Regions from separate parts of the Homo sapiens genome. Here region 1 is linked to region 2. Evidence: fine-mapped expression QTL. Tissue or cell type: whole blood. Region 2 holds a variant in brackets; the other region holds the start of a gene. All regions are shown on one strand. Distances are between the middles of the regions.

What was found. PIP is the estimated chance that this variant, and not a neighbour inherited with it, causes the effect.
Region 1: SPNS2 starts here. The variant in region 2 is fine-mapped to the expression of SPNS2 in whole blood (TOPMed, PIP above 0.99).

What each region holds. Positions count from the first base shown.
Region 1 is chr17:4,495,979-4,502,185 of GRCh38, forward strand. It overlaps SPNS2 (SPNS lysolipid transporter 2, sphingosine-1-phosphate), which reads left to right and starts at 2,903. Exons shown (of 13, transcript NM_001124758.3): 1 at 2,903-3,439. The coding sequence starts at 3,070. SPNS2-AS1 (SPNS2 antisense RNA 1) reads right to left here and starts at 2,757. Exons shown (of 3, transcript XR_001752763.2): 1 at 2,173-2,757; 2 at 1,564-1,737. RefSeq lists silencers at 2,696-2,755, 2,766-2,915, 2,976-3,025 and enhancers at 3,067-3,702, 3,703-4,337.
Region 2 is chr17:4,423,958-4,431,530 of GRCh38, forward strand. No RefSeq gene overlaps it. Among named protein-coding and RNA genes, the nearest start is that of SPNS3, 6.2 kb to the right of the region's middle. The variant C/G (reference allele first, on the strand shown) is at 2,925.

The sequences.
Region 1 (6,207 bases), 71 kb after region 2:
TTCCCAAGTATGACTGCTCTTTGAATAATGGCCATTAATGTTCTGTGCCCCATTTTTTTCTTTTTTGTGTGTGTTCTTTTCTTTTTTTCCCCCCACTTTTGTTTTTTGTTTTTGTTTTTGTTTTTGAGATGGAGTCTCACTCTGTCACCGAGGCTGGAGTGCAGTGGCATGATCTTGGCTCACTGCAACCTCTGCCTCCCAAGTTCAAGCAATTCTCCTGCCTCAGCCTCCTAAGTAGCTGGGATTACAGGCGCGCCCCACCACGCCTGGCTAATTTTTGTATTTTTAGTAGAGACCGGGTTTCACCATGTTGGCCAGGCTGGTCTCGAACTCCTGACCTCAGGTGATCCACCCACCTCGGCCTCCCAAAGTGCTGGCATTACAGGTATGAGCCACCACGCCGGCCCCCATTTGTTTTGAAGCTGTGATCTAGACCTAATGAATGAATATCAGAAGGTCCTTTAGCCACGGAGTTCAGCCTCCTGTTATACTGATGAAGAAACAGAATCCCGCCCAGTCTGAGGGCAGCGTGCAGTGGAGGAAGTGCTGGATTAGAGGGTAAACACACCTGGGTTTAGTCCATGCACTGTCATTTACCAGGTGTTCGACCTTGGGCAAATTACTTCTTTTCCCTGGGCCTCAGTTTCTTCATTGGCGAGATGGAGGAAAGAACCCTACCAGTCCTCTGTCTGACAGCCCCAGGTTACTGCCAGAGCTTCTCAGAAGGCTGTAGGGATTTGTCCTGGGCTGCACAACCAGAAAGGGCTTCTTGTCCTCCCTGTCCCTCTGCCCTTGGTGGCCCCTTATCCCACACAAGGACTTATTCTAGAGGCTGCCTTTGAGTTGAAACCCCAGTGAAACACAGTGGGAAGGGCTGGCTTGCTTGGTGGCAGCTCAGAGGTCCCCCAGGTTTGAAAGGCTCATGCCACCCTCTTCCCCTGCTCTGGGACCTTCCCAGTGGTGAAAAGGGAAGGCAGCAGAAAGAGAATGCTCCCCTTTCTGTCAAGGCCGAAAGTGTCCACCTGGACAGGACTGTGGCCAAAGGGATGAGGAGTTTTGGGGCACGGGAAGGGGACCCTGGGCTTGGGTCTAGAGTTGTGGTTGTGCCTCCTTCACCACTAGACACAGTTCCACAGCTGGGCAGCCTCCCACAGCTGGACTCTGTCCACCTGCTGGCACCATCACACACTTACGAGATCATTGCTGGGGCCGGGTTCTAGCCCCACGGAGCTCCTAGCTCTCTGTCCTTGTTTGTTAATCACCCGTCATGCCAGGCCACCATGGGGAACTCCCCCCATCCGCCTTTGCAGGCCTGAGCTCAGCGAGCTGGAAAGAGGCAGCAGGCAACTTTGAGAATGAAATCTGTTTTCCTAACCCTCCCGTCACAGTCATTCATACCCAGCACGCTGAAGCATATTTTTAGTCACTTTGCAGAATTTAAAATACACCTCGAAGGCGCCAAGAAACACCAGCTTGGGGATTAACTCTGCTCACAAGAGACAGTGGAGGGGGGCGGGGGGGGTGCCTCGTGCTGTGTCACCCGTTGGCTATGCCATGACTCACTGTGGCCGAAAGCTTCACCAGATGCACCTGCCTGTGGACGTGGGGTCCGGAAAAGCCTCTAGCGGGGAGTGAGCTCCAGCCCTCGGGGATGATGCCAGAGCCTGGGGCAGCTCCAGCCCTGCCACAGCTTCACTGCCTGTTCGTAATGGGTCACGTCCGTGCCCTGGGACTTGTCTGTGAAACACAGGGAATGATTAACTGGTTTCCGAGGGTTTGTCCAGTTCTAACATTCTGTCCTCTGCACTTTATACAGGATTTTAATTTCGATTTTAATTCCCCAAACAGGTGAATGGGGGAGGGAAGGGGGAGATCGTCACAGAGCCACAGCACCTCTAAGGAGGGGTGAAACCGTGATGGGATGTCAGGAACACAGAAGCACCCCAACCACTCTCCATAGGAGGCAGACCCCCGCCCCGTCCCACCAAGGGGAGGTGACCACCCGTGGATTTCCAGACTGAATCCCATCCTGCCATCTGCCCCCAGATACAGAAATGGAGGCCCAGAGAGTGGGTGTCATGTTCAGGATCATGCCACACACCAGGGCAGAGCTGAGCTAGGACCCAGCCTCCTGTCTGCCACTGGGGGCTTTGTACCCTCTCTAGCACATACCTGGAAGTCTGAAGCTTGGAGATGTGGTCCCTCAGGAGGGAAAGCCCCTTCTGAATATCCTGTTTCTGTTGGGCCCCAATCACAGCCCTTGCTCTCCCCGCCAGGGGCTGCGGGCCACTCTGTGGGGCAAGGGTAGGGTCCGGGTGCCCACACAGGAATGGGCCCGGGGTAGGTTGGGGGCTGGATCTGGGTTGCCCTGGGGAGGTGGGAGACACAGCCCACCATGACTGGTGGAGGTCTAGGTTCTGGGCCCTCCCTGAACTGGTTAAATCCGGGCGTGTGAGTATCGGAGGAGCCACCGGCTCTCCAACTGGCGCCCCTGACTTTAGCCATCTGAGACTCCTCTCTCCAGTTCTCCCAGATACGCTAGGCTCAAGCCCTCAGCCCGGCTCCCAGAGCCTCCGCCGGGAGTCCACGCCCGAGGCAGGGGTTGGGTGAAGGGTACTGAGTAGGTGCTGGGAGCCCCGTCACCAGCACCCTGCTCCCAGCTCCGTAGCCAGAGCAAACCCTCTCCCGCTCCCCGCGGGCGTTCGCGGCCGGTCGGCCCCGGCGTGACTGCGCCCCCATTGGCAGGAGGGGCTCTGCCGCCCGGGCCCCCAGTCCCCGGGCCCCCCACCCCCAGGGCAGCACGTGCGGGGCGGGGCTGTGGCCCGAGCCCGGAGCTGATTGGGCGCGGGCCTGGTGGGCGGGGCCGGGCCGCAGCTGTCAGAGCCGCGGCGGCGAACGAGGCGCAGCGAGCTGAGCGGTGGCAGCGCCGCAGCCGGGGCCGGAGCGCAGGAGCCGACGGGGCCCGACCAGGATGGTGCAGTGGCGGCTCCGCGGCGCACGCACGCGCTGAGCGGGCCCAGCCTGGGCCCCGCGCCCCCCGCGCCCCCCGCCGCCCCGATCCGGGCCGGCATGATGTGCCTGGAATGCGCCTCGGCGGCGGCGGGCGGCGCGGAGGAGGAGGAGGCGGACGCGGAGCGGCGGCGCCGGCGCCGGGGGGCGCAGCGAGGGGCTGGCGGTAGCGGTTGCTGCGGGGCGCGGGGCGCGGGCGGCGCTGGAGTCTCGGCCGCGGGCGATGAGGTGCAGACGCTGTCGGGCAGCGTAAGGCGGGCCCCGACCGGACCCCCCGGCACCCCCGGCACCCCCGGCTGCGCAGCTACTGCAAAGGGCCCCGGCGCTCAGCAGCCCAAACCGGCCAGCTTGGGCCGCGGGCGGGGGGCAGCCGCCGCCATCCTCAGCTTGGGCAACGTGCTCAACTACCTGGACAGGTACACCGTGGCAGGTGAGCGAGTGCCCCACCCAGCCCGAGGACCAAGACCCCACCCCATCCCACCACCCGCCTCGAGGGAGGTACCCCAGAGAGCTTTTGGTCTCAGGCCTGCTATCTCCAGGCCCTACGTGAGGTCCCTACGGACCCTCTGCTCAGGCACAACTGGGCAAGGGATGCCTCCGTGCACCACGGGTACAATCCAGCTCCCCGCTCATACACACCCGGGGCCAAGGGATAGAGGAGTCCCCACCCCTGGAGCAGCCCGCGCGTCCTCTCCAGCCCTTGACGGCCCATCCGTTGTCCTCCTCTCCAAGAGTCTCCTCTGCGTCTCTCTGTCTCCTTGTCTCTGCGCCCCCTCCGACCCCAGCTGCCGGTTCCCGGGCCTCCTTCCCTTCCCTTCCCCCAGCCCAGGTCGTCTGTCCGTCCATGGCCCGTCAGTTCCTTCCTTTCTCCGCCGCCTCCACCCCCCTGCGTGCGTGCGGCGAGTGCGCGCGCCCCTTGCGGGTGTGCGCTAGGGAGACCGGGTGTGTGTGCGCGTGGCGGCGCGGTTGTGTGTGAGCGCGTGGCTGACAAAGGCTCCGGGCTGCGGGGAGCGGAGGGAGGGGCGGGGCGGGTCCGCGGCGCCTGGGGACCCAGGCTGCGGTTTGCAGCTGGCCCTGTACAGAGGCCTGGAGACGCCTCCCCCTGCTCTATGGTGCTTGGGGTGTAGGGTAGGGCGCAGGCCTCTGGAGCTAGAGACGTGGAGCCTCATCCTCAGGGAGCATCTCTGGGAATCAGCCTTGGGGACGGGATTGGGATCGATAGAACAACTGGGTTCTAGCCCCAGCTTTGCTCCTAATGTGCTTGGTGTGTGACCTTGGGCCAGTCTCAGCGTGTGTTTAGGTCTGTTTGCCCGTTTGTGAGTTGATTGATCATTGGGCCTTTGGGGGACGCACGTGGTTCTGGAATTGCCTTCTGCTGGCTCCCTTCCCCAGCAATTAGGGGTGGGTCTAGGGGTAAGAATTTGCCCTAGACTGAGCTGCTACTGGTTGGGAATGGTGGAGCTTTGAGAGGGAAGGACTTTGGCCAGACTGGCATAGGAAGGGGCTCCCTGCAGGAGGAGAGCAGTACTGTGTGCCTGGCATGCTGGCCCAGAACCTGCGTAACTATAGCTTAGTAAAATCTGGAGCTATCAAACACACACACAACAGAGAGAGAGAGGAGATAGGAGAGAGGGAAGGATTTATTTTTGGACAGACTCTAAAGAGAACTTTGCGGCAATTGAGGGAAGAGAGCCCGGGCATAAACCACATGCCACCTGGTGCCTTCTCTGGGCCTCAGTCTCCCCGTCTGTTGAATGGAGTTTTGTGTCAAATGGAAGGGAAGAATTCTGATGGGAGGGCAGAGGCTTCCCCCTCCCCCCATTCCTGCTTTCAACCCCCCTTGGCTCTCTGTCCTTCCGCTGGAGGAAATTGGAAGTGGGTACCAGTGGCATCAGTTTCTGGGTCGAGCTATCCCAAAGAGAAACTTACTTTGGTCTAGAGAGCAGGAATATTGAGCACCTCCCAAAAACGCCAGCCGCTGTCACGCATGCACCATGCTGCCGGGGACCTGGGAGCATAAGCGCCATCCTTTGGGGGAGAAATCAGAGAATACCTGGGACCTGTAGTCAGTTCACAAAAGGCTTCTGTACACAGATAGGGGGACCAATGTCCCTGTACAGCCCCCGTTCAAGATGGCCAGGAAAGTGACTGGCAAAGCTGGTGTTAGCTCTAACAGTAAGGCTCTGCCTGGGAGGAGGTCTTCCCACCCTTTCTCAGCTGAAGAAGGAATGGTACTACTTCTGGCACTGTAGCGCTCTCCAACTTGTTTTTTTTCTGGCCCCAGACCACCCCCTTTGACGTTCTTAGGGGAACTGCCTCTGCCAGGGGCAGAGCCAGAGAGGGTGGGATCAGGGAGGGCTGGCACTTATCTGCTCCCACTTCTACTCAGGTCTCTGAGTCAGATTGTCAGCATGGGGGAATGAGATAGGAAATTTGTGGTGAATTGGTAAAGGGAGGTGGGGAGTGGTGGCTAAGAGGGGCGTGGGGCAGTTAGGGAGGAAGGCCCGGAAAGTCCTGTGCAAACACTTGCCTGGGCTGTGCCTCCCTCCCTCTCCTGGCCTGGAGTGGGAGCTCACACACCACCCCACCCCCAACACACAACAGACACAGGTTTCCTCTCCGGATAAGCCTGGTTGCCCCTCTCTCTATGGTAGATTTCCCCATCTCCACTTCCCCAAGTTCAGTTTTTAGGAATATTTATTATCTCTATGGTAACTACTATGGCTTGATGTGCTAGGGCCAGGGGAGTGCTCATCCCAGGCCTGAGTGCACCTGTTGCTGGCTGGCCCAGCTGGGACAGAGATGGGGATGCAGAGACTCAATTGCTCAGTCTTTGATGCTTGCACCTACCTGGCCCCAGCTCCCCACCAAAGATGGAAGGGAGGTCCCACTCTCCTTCTTTAACTCTGTCCTTTAAATCTGTTTTTTCATAGTGTAGACCAGCTTTGTCCAAAAGAAATATAATGTAAGCCACATATTCCTGTCAAATTTTCTGGTAGCCGGACTAAAATAGTACAAGAAATAGGTGTGATTAATTCATAATATATTTTATTTAACTCAATATATCCAACATATTTCAACATGTAATCAATATAAAAGTTGTTAGGGCTGGGCGCGGTGGCTCACGCCTGTAAACCCAGCACTTTGGGAGGTCGAGGCGGGTGGATCACCTGAGGTCGGAAGTTCGAGACCAGCCTG
Region 2 (7,573 bases):
TGCAACCTCTGCCTACTGGGTTCAAGGGATTCTCCTGCCTCAGTCACCCAAGTAGCTGGGATTACAGGCACCACCACCATGCCCGGCTAATTTTTTTGTATTTTTAGTAGAGACGGGGTTTCACCATGTTGGCCAGGCTGGTCTCTATCTCCTGACCTCAGGTGATCTGCCCGCCCTGGCCTCCCAAAGTGCTGGGATTACAGGTGTGAGCCACCACGCCTGGCCCCCAATAAGCTTCTGTATCAGAATTCACGAGAAAAAGCAGCCAAATAAGCTATGACTGGCCAGTTCACAAGTTTGTCTTTGATGTGTTTTATTATTTTTATCTGAATGGAATTATCCTGGACATGGATTTTGTAGGCTCTTGTTTATTTTTCACCATCAAATTCTGAACGTCTTTCAGATCAACATAGACTAACATCATGTACAGGGCTGTCTGGTGCCCCATTGTAGGGAGGTACCATGATTTATTTATTAATTTAATTTTTTTTTTTTTGAGATGGAGTTTCGCTCTTGTTGCCCAGGCTGGAGTGCAATGGCAGGATCTCAGCTCACTGCAACCTCCGCCTCCAGGGTTCAAGCGATTCTCCTGCCTCAACCTCCCAAATAACTGGGATTACAGGCATGTGCCACCACGCCCGGCTAATTTTGTATTTTTAGTAGAGACGGGGTTTCTCTATGTTGGCCAGGATGGTCTCGAACTCCTGACTTCAGGTGATCCGCTTGCTTCGGCCTCCCAAGGTGCTGGGATTACAGGCATGAGCCACGGCGCCTGGCCTGGAGGTACCATAATTTATTTAACCAGCCTCTGAAGCTGGGAATCTAGAATGTTGTCACTGTTCTGATATTACAATAACCCCATTTACTTTTTTTTTAATTGTGGTAAAATAATATAGAATTTACAATTTAGCCTTTTTTTTTTTTTTGAAACAGAGTCTTGCTCTGTCGCCCTGACTGGGGTGCAGTGACGCGATCTCGGCTCACTGCAATCTCTGCCTGCCGAGTTCAAGCGATTCTCCTGCCTCAGCTTCCCAAGTAGCTGGGACTACAGGCATGTGCCACCACGCCCAACTAATTTTTGTATTTTGTATTTTTTTTGACAGAGTCTTGCTCTGTCACCCAGGCTGGAGTGCAGTGACATAATCTCAGCTTACTGCAAGCTGTGCCTCCCGGGTTCACGCCATTCTCCTGCCTCAGCCTCCCGAGTGGCTGGGACTACAGGCGCCTGCCACCATGCCTGGCTAATTTTGTTTTTGTATTTTTAGTAGAGACGGGGTTTCACCATGTCAGCCAGGATGGTCTCGATCTCCTGACCTCGTAATCCGCCCACCTCAGCCTCCCAAAGTGCTGGGATTACAGGCGTGAGCCACCGCGCCCGGCTAATTTTTGTATTTTTAGTAGACACGGGGCTTCACCATTTTGGTCAGGCCAGTCTTGAACTCCTGACCTCGGGTGATCCGCCTGCCTCAGCCTCCCAAAGTGCTGGGATTACAGGTGCGAGCCCCTGCGCCTGGCCTCAATTTAACCATTTTTAAGTGTAAAGCTCAGAGGTACTAAATGCACTCACGTTGTGCAACCATTACCACCCTCCATCTGTGAAACTTTTTCATCATCCCCAACTGAAACTCTGTGCCCATTAAGCAATGACCCCATTTCTCACTCGCCCCCATTCAGTCCCTCCTAACCTCTATTCTACTTTTGGTCTCTGTAAATTCACATATTCTAGTCCAGGCGCCGTGGCTCTCATCTGTAATCCCAGTACCTTGAAAGGCCTGAGGTGGGCAGATTGCTTGAGCTCACGAGTTTGAGACCAGCCTTGGCAACGTGGCAAAACCCTGTCTCTACAAAAAATGCAAAAAATTAGCCAGCATGGTGGCGTGTGCCTGTAGTCCCAGCTACTCGGGAGGCAGAGGTGGGAGGATGGATTGAACCTGGGAGAAGGAAATTGCAATGAGCTGAGATTGTGCCACTGTACTCCAGCCTGGGTGACAGAGCCAGACCTTGTCATTCATAAATAAATAAATAAATGAATGAATAAAATAAATAAATGGCCGGGCGCGGTGGCTCAGGCTTGTAATCCCAGCACTTTGGGAGGCCAAGGCAGGAAGATCACCTGAGGTCAGAAGTTCGAGACCAGCCTGGCCAACATGGCAAAATCCCATCTCTACTAAAAATGCAAAAATTAGCTGGGCGTGGGGGGCACGTGCCTGTAATCCCAGCTACTCGGGAGGCTGAGGCAGGAGAATCGCTTGAACCCAGGAGGTGGAGGTTGCAGTGAGCTGAGATCGTTCCACTACACTCCAGCCTGGGTGACAGAGTGAGACTCCGTCTCAAAAAGAAACAAATAAATAAAATAAAATTAAAATTAATAATTAATTAAAAAATTCACTTATTCTATAAATCTCATATAAGTAGAATCATACAATCAATATTTATCTTTTGCATCTGGGTAATTTCACTCAGCATGATGTCTTCTTTTTTTTTTTTTTTTTTTGGAGACAGGGTTTTGCTCTGTCGCCCGGTCTGGAGTGCAATGGCACGATCGTAGCTCACTGCAGCGTCGAACTCCTGGCCTCAAGCCATCCTCCCACCTCAGCCTCCCCAGTAGCTGGTTTTAGAGGTGTGAGCCACCGCACCTGGCCAGTTGGATATATTCTAATGCTGCTCTCCTGGCTAACACCTAGCCTCCCTGACTTGCCCAACTCCTGGGAGTTCTGGCCTCAAGAACCCCTCCCTAGTCCCTGACTGGCTCTGAAAACCACCACAGCGTCTCTTTCTTGTTGGGTAAAGGTGAGGGCTGGACCCTGGAAAGGTCCTGTTTGGGGCAGCAGCTGCTAGGTGGGGGCTGCCAAGGTCCCCACTGCTGTGTGGTTTGCATGAGTGTGTGTGAGTGGGGGTGTGGGTGCTCGTGTGCCCACCTTCTC[C/G]TCATGCACTCACACTTGTGGATGTAGCTCTGCCCACTACTCTTTGGCTCTGAGGGCAGGGGCTGAGAACAAAGTTTCATCTACATGTGCTGGGGAAAACCCCATTATATTTAACACTCACAATACTTCCTCCATACCAAGCATAGTTCTAGGCACTTTTCAAACATCATCGTATTCAAGCCACAACAGTCCCATGAGGTGTGTACTATTTTTATCCCCATTTTATTTGTTTTATATTTATTTATTTTCAAGACAAGAGTCTTACTCTGTCGCCCAGGTGGGAGTGCAGTGGTGCGATCACGGCTCACTGCAGTCTTGATCTCCTGGGCTCAGGTGATCCTGGGATTACAGGCATGCACCACCATCCTTGGCTAATTTTTGTATCTGTATTTGTATTAAAAATTTTTTTTTTTAGTAGAGACGGGGTTTCACCATGTTGGTCAGGCTGGTCTCGAACTTCTGACCTCAGGTGATCCACCCGCCTCAGCCTCCCAAAGTGCTGGGATTACAGGCGTGAGCCACCGCGCCCGGCCTTAATTTTTACATTTTTAGTAGAGACGGGGTTTCGCCGTGTTGCCCAGGCTGATCTCCAACTCTGAACTCAAGCGATCTGCCTGTCCTGGCCTCCCAAAGTAATGGGATGACATTCACGAGCCACTGTGCCTGGCCATCCCCATTTTGTAGGTGAGAAAATTGAGATGGAGAGAGGTTGAGTGATCTGCCTGAGATCCTATGGCCAGTGAGCAGTGAGTCTAGCTGCGGAGTACAGGTTCTGAAGCAGGATGCGAGACCGCCTGCACGTGCGCATGGATGATCTTGAACTTCCCCTTCATTCACCAACTGTAGACCCCATGTGGGTGGTCACCGAGACGGTATGCGGCTGAACCAGGCAGTGGATGCCAAGGACCTCGTCATCATCGTCACCACCACAATAACAATACTCTACACTCTGTTTGTCACATGACAAGCTCTATGTTGGAAACAGTATGTGTATCTATATTAGTTCATCCTCACAATTAACCCCTGAAACATCGTCATATTATTCTCTTTTTAAGACTTACTGAGTCTTGCTCTTGTTGCCGAGGCTGGAGTACCATGGCGCAATCTCGGCTCACTGCAACCTCTACCTCCTGGGTTCAAGTGATTCTCCTGCCTCAGCCTCCCGAGTAGCTGGGATTACAGGCATGCACCACCACGCCCGGCTAAGTTTTTATATTTTTAGTAGAGACGGGGTTTCACCATGTTGGCCAGACTGGTTTCAAACTCCTGACCTCAGGTGATCTGCCTGCCTTGGCCTCCCAAAGTGCTGGGATTACAGGCATGAGCCACAACGCCCAACCCATCTTATTATTCTCTATCACAAATGAGAACACTGGTTGGGCGCAGTGGCTCGTGCCTTAATCCCAGCACTTTGGGAGGCCGAAGCAGGCAGATCACCTGAAGTCAGGAGTTCGAGACCAGCCTAGTCAGTATGGCGAAAGCCTGTCTCTACTAAAAATACAAAAAATTATCCAGGCGTGGTGGCTCACGCCTGTAATCCCGGCACTTTGGGAGGGCGAGGCAGGCAGAACACCTGAACTCAGGAATTCGAGACCAGCCCAGTCAGCATGACGAAATCCTGTCTCTACTAAAAATACAAAAAATTATCCACGCATGGTGGCTCATGCCTGTAATCTCAGCGCTTTGGGAGGCCAAGGCAGGCGGATCACCTGAAGTCAAGAATTCTAGACCAGCCTGGTCAGCAAGGCGAAAGCCTGTCTCTACTAAAAATACAAAAAATTATCTGGGCATGGCAGTGTGTGCCAGTAGTCCGAGCTATTCGGGAGGCTGAGGCAGGAGAATGGCTTGAACCCAGGAGGCGGAGGTTGCAGTGAGCTGAGATTGCACAGTTGCTCTCCAGCCTGGGGCGACTCTGTCTCTAAACAAGAAAACAAATGAGAACTCGGAGGCTCAGAGAGGTTAGAGACTTGCCTGAGGCACACAACTAGAAAGTAGCAAAATTTGATTTTGAATCCAGGCCGGTCAGACTGTAAAGCTCCTACTTTTTTGTTTGTTTGCTTTAACTTTTTTTTAAAGAAATAGGATCTTGCTGTGTTGCCCAGGTTGTTCTCAAACTCCTGGGCTCAAGCAATCCTCTTACTTCAGCCTCTCAAGTAGCTGAAACTATAGGCACGAGCCATCAAGCCCGGCTTCTTTAATGTTTTTTAAAAATTGAGGTAATTACATTACTTAAAATTGTAACCATTTTAAAGGATATAATTCAGTGGCATTGAGTGGATTCAGAGTGTTGTGACACCATCTCCTCTATCTAGTTTTGAAACATTTTCATCACTCTCCAAGGGGACTGTCTTCCCATTAAGCATTTTCCTCTCCTCTTAGCCTCTAGGAACCATTTACTTTCTGTTTCTGTGACTATACCTGTGCAGGATATTTTCTATAAATGGAATCATACAATATGTGGCCTTTTGTGTCTGGTGTCTTTCACTTAGCATAATGTTTTCTTTTTTTTTTTTTCCGAGACGGAGTCTCACTCTGTCGCCCAGGCTGGAGTGCAGTGGCACAATCTCGGCTCACTGCAACCTCCACCTCCTAGGTTCAAGCCATTGTCCTGCCTCAGCCTTCTGAGTAGCTGGGATTACAAGTGCGGTGCCACCACACCCGGATTATTTTTGTATTTTTAGTAGAGATGGAGTCTCACCTTGTTGATCAGCCTGGTCTCAAACTCTTGACCTCAGGTGATCTGTCTGCCTCGGGCTCCCAAAGTGCTGGGATTACAGGCGTGAGCCACTGTGACCAGCCAGCATAATGTTTTTAAGGTCTATCCGTGTTGTAGCATGAATCAGTACTTCCTTCCTCTTTATGACTGGATACTATTCCATTGTATGATTATGCCACATTTTCTTGACCCATTTATCAGATGGGCGTTTAAGCTGTTTCCACCTTTTGGCTGTTATGAACAGTGCTGCCATGAACATTTATGTACAAGTATTTGTTTGAGTCTTTGTTTTCTTTTCTTTTCTTTTTTTTTTTTCTTTTTTTGAGACAGAGTGACAAAGTTGCTCTGTTGCCCCAGCTAGAGTACAGTGGTCCCATCTTGGCTCATTGCAACCTCTCCCTCCAGGGTTCAAACAATTGTCATGCCTCAGCCTCCCGAGTAGCTGGGACTACAGGTGTGTGCCACTATGCCCAGCTAAATTTTTTGGATTTTTTAGTAAAGACGGGGTTTCACCATGTTGGTCAGGTTGATTTCAAACTCTTTTTTTTTTTTTTTTGAGATGGAATCTCACCCTGTCGCCCAGGCTGGAGTGCAGTGGCGTGATCTTGGCTCACTGTAAGCTCCGCCTCCTGGGTTCATGCCATTCTCATGCCTCAGCCTCCTGAGCAGCTGGGACTACAGGCGCCCGCCACCATGCGCAGCTAACTTTTTGTATTTTTAATAGAGGTAGGGTTTCACCGTGTTAGCCAGGATGGTCTCGATCTCCTGACCTTGTGATCTACCTGCCTCAGCCTCCCAAAGTGCTGGGATTACAGGTGTGAGCCACCGCGCCCAGCCTTGAACTCTTGACCTCAAGCGATCCGTCTGCCTTGGCCTCCCAAAGTGCTGAGATTAGAGGCTCAAAATAGTCTTTGTTTTCAATTCTTTTTTTTTTTTTTTTTTTTTTTGAGACAGAGTCTTACTCTGTCACCCGGGCTGGAGTGCAGTGGTGCAATGTAGGCTCACTGCAATCTCTGCCACCTGGGTTCAAGTGATTCTCCTGCCTCAGCCTCCCGAGTAGCTGGGATTACAGGCGCCTGCCACCGTGCCTGGATAATTTTTTTGTAGTTTTAGTAGAGACAGGGTTTCACTGTCTTCGCCAGGCTGGTCTTGAACTCCTGACATCGTGATCCACCTGCCTCGGCCTCCCAAAGTGCTGGGATTACAGGTGTGAGCCACTGTACCTGGCCTGTTTTCAGTTCTTTTGGATATATACCTAGGATTGGAATTGCAGGGCCATATGGTAATTTTATGTTTAACCTTTGGAGGAACTGCCAAACTTTGTTCCACTGCGGCTGCCTTACTCCACATTCCCAGCAATGCATGAGGCTTTCAATCTCTCCACCAACATTTGTTATTTCCTCTCTCTCTCTTTTTAAAATTATAGCCGTCTTAGTGGGTACGAACTGATATCTTATGGTGGCTTCAATCTGCCATTTTCCTAATGACTTGTGATGTTGAACATTTTTCTTTCTTTTTTTTTTTTTCCCCCGAGATGAAGTCTCGCTCTGTCACCCAGGCTAGAGTGCAGTGGTGTGATCTCAGCTCACCGCAACCTCTGCCACCCGGGTTCAAGCAGTTCTCCTGCCTCAGCCTCCTAAATAGCTGGGATTACAGACACATGCCACCACGCCCAGCTAATTTTTGTATTTTTAGTAGATATGGAGTTTCACTATGTTGGCCAGGCTGGTCTCGAACTCCCAACCTTGTGATCCACCCACCTGAGCCTCCTAAAGTGCTGGGATTGCAGGCGTGAGCTACTGTGCCCAGCCTGAACATCTTTTTATGTGCTTGTCGGTCACCTGTATATCTTCAGAGAAATGTCTGTTCAACTCCTTGGCCCATTTTTGTCCCCCTGATGTTTTTTTTCTTTAGAGATGGGATCTCACTCTGT